Homo sapiens: one gene and its partner. The protein of the gene in region 1 purifies or fractionates together with the protein of each later gene. This does not show direct contact. Each region holds a gene or a part of one and is shown in the gene's direction. Other genes may lie near its edges.

Region 1 (4,034 bases):
CATTTGAGAAAGGAGCTAAATGATTCATGTGGTCCATAAAGGTATCATTTTTATAGACTGGTGATTATTTTATTATTACTATTTTTTTGAGACAGAGTTTCGCTCTTGTCGCCCATGCTGGAGTGCAATGGCGTGCTCTCGGCTCACTGCAACCTCCGCCTCCTGGGTTCAAGTGATTCTCCTGCCTTAGCCTTCCTAGTAGCTGGGATTACAGGCGGCTGCTACCTTGCCTGGCTAATTTTTGTATTTTTAGTGGAGACGGGGTTTCGCTATGTTGGTCAGGCTGGCCTCAAACTCCTGACCTCAGGTGATCCAAACGCCTCGGCCTCCCAAAATGCTGGGATTACAGGCATGCACCACCATGCCCGGTCCTAGACTAGTGATTTTATAGATGGCATTTCTTCACACGACTAAAAGCAGTCTAAACTGAAAACGATGCCAAAACACTAGACTTCAGTCAACAGTCTTAAAAGCCTACACTCCCAAATAGACTATTTGATAAACCCTCTGACTTCTAAGAAACTCAAAGGAAAAACACCACCAGGAGAGCCGAGTGCCCCCAGAATTGTCCTTGGACCATCTGTAGATCTTGTCTTATGATCCACTTATGCTGAGTGTAAACAGAGATACTGCTGTAAATAGAAGCCAAAATGTCCCTGCACTCAGATGGCTACATCTGGGAGCTCTGCCAAATTAGAGGATTTATGCGTCAGAGCCAGGTGGGTTCCACAGCAGAAGCTGGGGTCTCAAATCTGAACTTCTGCTTAACACACACTTGGTACCTACTCTGACACTATCGTGACCCTTGGTAAAGTGACTATTAATTCCTACCGCTGGGGCTTTCCTGGGCCCTGTACACATCCTCCTGACTCTCCTTGGAGACTATGTAGGTAGCTGGCTGAGGGGTGTGGCTAGGACCTTCGGTCAAGCTCTTCTATCAAGAGGCTGGCCCTGAAGAGCCACACTTGTAACTGATCAACAGCTTAACAAGCTGGTCGGGGTAGAACTCCGAATCCTTCACCGTTCCTGCGTCTCAGAAGCTGGCTAACATCTCCCTCCCTCCAGGGTGGTAGAATCCACTTTGAAATGTTCTCTCTCCCTGGCCCTCCCACTCCCTAACCTTTGCCCTCTTTCTAATTGCCCTGATCTCATCCCAACCTCCATAGCTATGTTTAAAGTCCACCTCTGGGGAACAGACAGATTGAATGTTCCAGATAATCCCTTTCCCAGTCCTGCCTGACATCTGGGTAGGGGGTTTGTCCCTGGAATTCTGGGACACTGGCTGGGGTTTGAGGAGAGAAGCCAGTACCTACCTGGCTGCAGGATGAAGCTGGCCAGTGGCTTCTTGGTTTTGTGGCTCAGCCTTGGGGGTGGCCTGGCTCAGAGCGACACGAGCCCTGACACGGAGGAGTCCTATTCAGACTGGGGCCTTCGGCACCTCCGGGGAAGCTTTGAATCCGTCAATAGCTACTTCGATTCTTTTCTGGAGCTGCTGGGAGGGAAGAATGGAGTCTGTCAGTACAGGTGCCGATATGGTGAGTGTGCGGTTTCTCTTTCTGTAAAAACTGTTGCTGGTGGACCCATGGACAGCCCCAGAGAGGTCACGATCTGTCTTGCACTTTTTCCTGTTATCCACTTAGAGCTGCCAGATTTAGCAGATAAAAATGTAGGACACCCAGTGAAATGTGAAATCCAAATAAACAACAAATAAGTCATTAGTATAAGTATGTCCAGTGAAATATCTGGGACATACTTATCCTGACAAATTCTTCGTTGTTTATCTCAAACTCACATTTCACTGAGCTTCCTGTATTGTATCTGGGAAACCTTCCCTGGGCCATTTTAATGAGTTTGTTGTGAGGCAGTTCTTAGGAAAAAAGGGTACCTGGGGTGGGAAGAAGGAGGGTGGGTATGAGAGGCCTCTGTGAGGAGTTCCCAGGGATGAAAACTGAAGCCGAACATTCAGAGAAAAATCTGCCATGGGGCAAAACCACCTCCTCAGCTGCTCTGTGCTCAGCTTGGAAACAAATTCTCCCTTCCCCCTGCTGCAGTTCACACCGTCCTCCCAGCTCTCAGTCCCTGACTGGCATCAATTTGCTGGACTTTCTCAAGGGAGCTGTCCCTGCCTGCAGCCTCGGCAACGACAGGCATGCTGTGGAGAGGAAGGGTTCGTGGCTCACCAGGGATCCCGGGGCTGTCCCCTGGACTTGGCGCCAGATGCAGATTTGTGAGCTGGCAGGAGCACTTCCCCTACCTTGCCTGAATATGGCTGGGGGTACACAGATATAAGGTGCACACCTGGCTGCCGGCACAGAGCCCCTGGTCCCAGGGGCCCTGGAAGTTAATGTAAGGGGAGCAAAATGTGGAGCCCCAGGCCTTGAAGCTGGGTGGCATCGTGTAATTGCCAATGCGCATGAAAACGTTTTCCAAAGCATGCACAGTCTCAGGTCTCAGGTAGCATTAGTTTTATGGTTTAATTTATCAACTATCTCATCAAGGGATTAGAAATGAAAATGGTGAGTCAATTTAGCCTAACAGGAAAACACATTTGAGAAATATTTTCTCCAAATACTCAACAGAGAAAAAGTCAGCTTTGAAGAGATGCACAAAAAAACTACATACTTCCCGGACTCACCCTTAAGTCTCTCTATTCCTTTTTGAGTGGGGAAAATCGCTTCCTTATACACTAAGAGTGACTAGGAGGTAATGGTTAATCATTGCATCAGGACCCAAAGTTTTGCAGCATAGATGTTTTAACAATCTATGGTTAAAATCTATGTTTTAACCATCTATGTTTTAACCATCTATGCTGCAGCTTCTTTGTGAAAGTTTCACAGAGAAAAATGCCTGGTCTGTTAGGACCCACCTGGCCCTAAAACCATGTATTTGTCCAAGGCAGTTGGACCAACGCAGAGGCCTTGCCACTGGATTATGCTCACACTGTTTGCACGGATGGGACAGGGAAGGGGTTGACTCACTTCAGACATTGGAATCAACACAGGTGTTTTCCTTCCTAAAGGCAACACAGGACTAGTATCTGTAGTTCAGCAAATAGGCAACAGCAGGAATTTTTATTAGGAAATCAAGAACCAAATCCTATTCTTCCTTCTCTAGCAAAACAGCATTAAAAGACTTAAGCAAATTTTAGTTGCGGAGCCTCTGGCTGGGCAGGGTGGAAGCCAGCAGCAACTGGTGGGGGATGGGAAGAGTAAATAGAAGAGAAAGGCAAATAACTCTTCTCACTTTGTGTAAAACAACCTGCTCAAAGAGGGGCCTGAAAAACACTTAGAAAAATAGGCGGTTATGCCTCCTTACCTTGGAACCCAGTAGAGCCAAAAACCTGGCGGCTGTGCCCAAAAGAGTACAAAATACCTTCTCAAACTGATTGTGAATCGAGCAATCTTTTGAACAGACAACACCTAACAACGAGTCTGCTCTTTTGTAGTTTGCTTTGTGACACATCTCTCATGCACCGTGCTCGTCTTTTAAGTAGTGGTTCTCAAACTCACCTGTGAATTGAAGCCCCTGGAGGGCAGATTCAACCAGATCTCTGGGCCCCACCCCAGGTGTTTCTGATTAGTAGGAGATTCTGGGCTTAGGAGATCCTCCTGCCTCAGCCTCCCAGTTAGCTTGGGCTACAGGTGTGCGCCACCATGCCCAGATAATTTTGTAACTTTTTGTAGAGCAGGGAGTCTCACCATCTTGCCCAGGCTGGTCTCCAACTCCAGGGCTCAAGCAATCCTCCCAACTTGGCCTCCCAGATTGCTGGGATTATAGGCGTGAGCCACGGCACCAGCCAGATTTTACCTTTGATAGGTACTAACTACTATTTAAAACAGTGGGTTTCTAACTTGGGTACACTTCAGATCACCTGAGGGGCTTTAACAACACCTGGCACCAAATCAATTAAATCAAAATTTCTGTGGGTTGGCCCCAGACATCAGTATTTTAACATTTTTCCCAGGTGATTGCAAAGCACAGCCAAGGTAAAGGGGTGCCATTCTATGACGTCATTCTTAGAGAACTTCAGCCCA
Region 2 (3,568 bases), on another chromosome or scaffold:
AGATTAACCCCATAAATAAATAATGGACTGTTAGCTAGACACTTCATGTTCTACAACTCAAATGAGTTAGTTAACTCCTCTGAGCCTCTGTTCATTCATGTCCGCAGTAGATATCAGAGCTGTGTCCTTTCTTCATATGTGTGTTAGGAGATAACACGAAAGCTTTCATGGAAACACTTGGAAATTAAGGTGCTATAGACAAATCCTTTAATTAAAATAGAAAAAAATACATTCTTTGGTTGATTTGAAATTTTGTCTGAAGTAGATGTTACGCTACTTGGTTTTAGGAATCTTTTTTTTTTTTTTTTTTTTTGCCTGAGACGGAGTTCACTCTTGTTGTCTATGCTGGAGTGCAGTGGCACTAACTCAGCTCACTGCAACCTCCGCCTCCCAGATTCAAGCAATTCTCTCGCCTCAGCTTCCTGAGTAGCTGGGGTTATAGGTACGTGTCACCACACCCACCTAATTTTTGAATTTTTAGTAGAGACAGGGTTTCACCATGTTGGCCAGGCTGGTCTCGAACTCCTGACCTCAGATGATCCACCCGCCTCGGCCTCCCAAAGTGCTGGGATTACAGGCATGAGCCACCACGCCTGGCCAGAATCTTTTTATTATATGCAGATTATTTCATAGATAGGTATTTTATTATAACAAGATTTTAATTGCGTGTGTATAAATGATAGCACTATATATAAAATATATATATAAAATATAATATATATATATATATATACTTTTTTTTTTTTTTGAGACAGAGCCTTGCACTGCACCTCCCAGTCTGGAGTGCAGTGGTGCAATCTCGGCTCCCTGCAACCTCTACCTCCTGGGTTCAAGCGATTCTCCTTCCTCAGCTTCCCGAATAGCTGGGATTACAGGTGCACACCACCACATCCAGCTGATATTTTGTATTTTTAGTAGAGACAGGGTTTCACTGTGTTGGCCAGACTGGTCTTGAACTCTTGACCTCGTGATCCGCCCACCTTGGCCTCCCAAAGTGCTAGGATTACAGGCATGAGCCATCGTGCCGGGCTAATAGCACTATATTTTAAGATGCTTTGGTTTGCTATATTAGTGGTTATACCTTAAATTGTTGAAACATATCTTGTAAGTATAGATTAGGACTCTTGAATAGAAAATATTTAGGGGAACTATCTCATATTTTGCATGAATGAATGTTTGTGGTTGCTATGGGGATGATGAAGTGTACAATTAAAGATAATTGGATGGTTTTTAAGAAAACTCTCAGAAGCGTTTTGTGTAAACAGTGGTAATCTTGTTAAATCCCATTAAGATAAATCCAGAACATCAACGTGAGTATTAAACAACAGATTCTACATATTGGGATGTTTGTGGACACCACAGAGTAGGGAAAGGAGCAAGAAAGTCTCTAACTTCTTAGTGGATTATGTGGTTTGTTGGTTTTTAACTTGACTGAAAGCACTGTTGGCCGGGCGCAGTGGCTCACGCCAGTAATCCCAGCACTTTGGGAGGCCGAGGCGGGCGGATCACGAGGTCAGGAGATCGAGACCATCCTGGCTAACACGGTGAAACCCCGTCTCTATTAAAAACACAAAAAATTAGCCGGGCGTGGTGGCGGGCGCCTGTGGTCCCAGCTACTCAGGAGACTGAGGCAGGAGAATAGAGTGAACCCGGGAGTGGGAGCGTGCAGTGAGCCGAGATAGCGCCACTGCAGTCCAGCCTGGGCGAAAGAGCGAGACTCCGTCTCAAAAAAAAAAAAAAAAAAAAAGCAAGCACTGTTATTTGGGAAATGCCTGGTTTTTAGAGACAAATGAACAGAGATTTCAGCAGTGTAATTTCAGTCTTGACATGAACTATGACCAGAACTTTGAGCCGATGTGGTTTTTTGTGTGTGTGTGTGTGTGTGTGTTTTTTTTACAGAGTTTCTGTCTTGTCGCCCAGGCTGGAGTGCAGTGGCACGATCTCGGCTCACTGCAACCTCCGCCTACTGGGTTCAAGTGATTCTCCTGCCTCAGCCTCCTGAGTAGCTGGGATTACAGGCGCACACCACCATGCCTGGCTAATTTTTTGTATTTTTAGTATTTTTAGTACAGATGGGCCTTCACCATGTTGGCCAGGCTGGTCTCGAACTCCTGACCTCAGGTGATCCACCTGCCTCGGCCTTCCAAAGTGCTGAAATTACAGACATGAGCCACCATGCCTGGCCCTGTTGTGTTTCTTATGAATTTTTGACATTTTAAATTTTTAAAAATTCAGGTTCTTATTTCTAGTGCTAACTAAACTATAATACTTAAACTTTCCAGGATCTCTGTTTCCATTTGTAGCATGCAAGTATTATATTCTAACTGAAGATTATTGAGAGCATTTTCTTTAACTTCCACAATGTGGTTGGTTCTTACTTGATTTCTTGGTAGAACGTTAATAAGTCAACTCTATGATGGGGTTTTATTACTTTGTGTGTGTGTGTGTGTGTGTGTGTGTGTGTGTGTAGCCAAATGTTGTTTATTTGAAACCCATGTGATAAAAGTTTTAAAATATTAATATCCTCGCTATTTTAGGATGCACATTCACAAGGTGAGGTGGTATCATGCTTGGAGAAAGGCCTGGTGAAAGAAGCAGAAGAAAGAGAACCCAAGATTCAAGTTTCTGAACTCTGCAAGAAAGCCATTCTCCGGGTGGCTGAGCTGTCATCGGATGACTTTCACTTAGACCGGCATTTATATTTTGCTTGCCGAGATGATCGGGAGCGTTTTTGTGAAAATGTGAGTCAGCTCAGAAACTGTTCTTTTCTTCCTTTTATTTTTACACATATATAATTTTGTTTTAATTAATTTAATTGTGTTGTTTTTTGAGAGATTGAGTCTTGCTATGTTGCCCAGGCTGGTCACGAACTTCTGACCTGAAGCAGTGCTCCAGCTCAGCCTCCCCAATTTTTGAGACAGGATCTTGCTGTGGTGCCCAGGCTGGAGTGCAGTGGTGTGATCATGGCTCACTGCAGCCTCCAACTTCTGGGTTCAAGCGATTCTTCTGCCTCAGCCTCCCAAGTAGCTAAAACCATAGGCAAGCACCATCTTGCCTGGCCAATTTTTTTAAAAATTTTTTGTAGAGATGGGGCATTGCTGTATTGCCCGGACTGGTCTTGAACCCCTGGCCTGAGGTGATCTCCTCCCTCTGTCTCTGAAAGTACTAGGATTATAGGCACGAGCCACTGTGACTTAAATATTTTTTAATACTCTATTCTAACGTAAAATAAGCCATCAAGAAACCTCACATGTAGAAAAGCCACAGAAATGGAAGAAGAAATTGGTCCCAGTATAGCAGAAAGTGGTAACTGGATGCTCAACCTTGATGACTGAACATTTGGTTAACAGCTGGCTTCTAATGATCTCCACTTAGTATTTTTTCTGCTTTATCTCACTTCTCAATTTCAGTTCTTGGAAGTCTGTTTTATCTATAGGAATTTTATTTTACCCAGGATCTTATTTACATCTATTCAATGGCTAAAACTTTGACGCATTATATATTTATGTGTTTTTGGCTAAGGTGAAGAAAACAGCAGGTGGCTAATCTTTAAAACCAAATCCTTGAT

Evidence for each region. The genes of interacting proteins can lie anywhere in the genome.
Region 2: the proteins of PLA2G12B (region 1) and GLG1 purify together in Homo sapiens (affinity purification with mass spectrometry, with the first as the bait; one large-scale study listed by BioGRID). This does not show direct contact.

The regions. Positions count from the first base shown.
Region 1 is NC_000010.11:72,951,976-72,956,009, reverse strand, and holds the start of PLA2G12B (group XIIB secretory phospholipase A2-like protein isoform a precursor), read left to right. Parts: upstream 1-1,203; 5' UTR 1,204-1,324; coding exon 1,325-1,535; intron 1,536-4,034.
Region 2 is NC_000016.10:74,495,614-74,499,181, reverse strand, and holds part of GLG1 (Golgi apparatus protein 1 isoform 3 precursor), read left to right. Parts: intron 1-2,537; coding exon 2,538-2,741; intron 2,742-3,568. UniProt on the Homo sapiens protein: Binds fibroblast growth factor and E-selectin (cell-adhesion lectin on endothelial cells mediating the binding of neutrophils).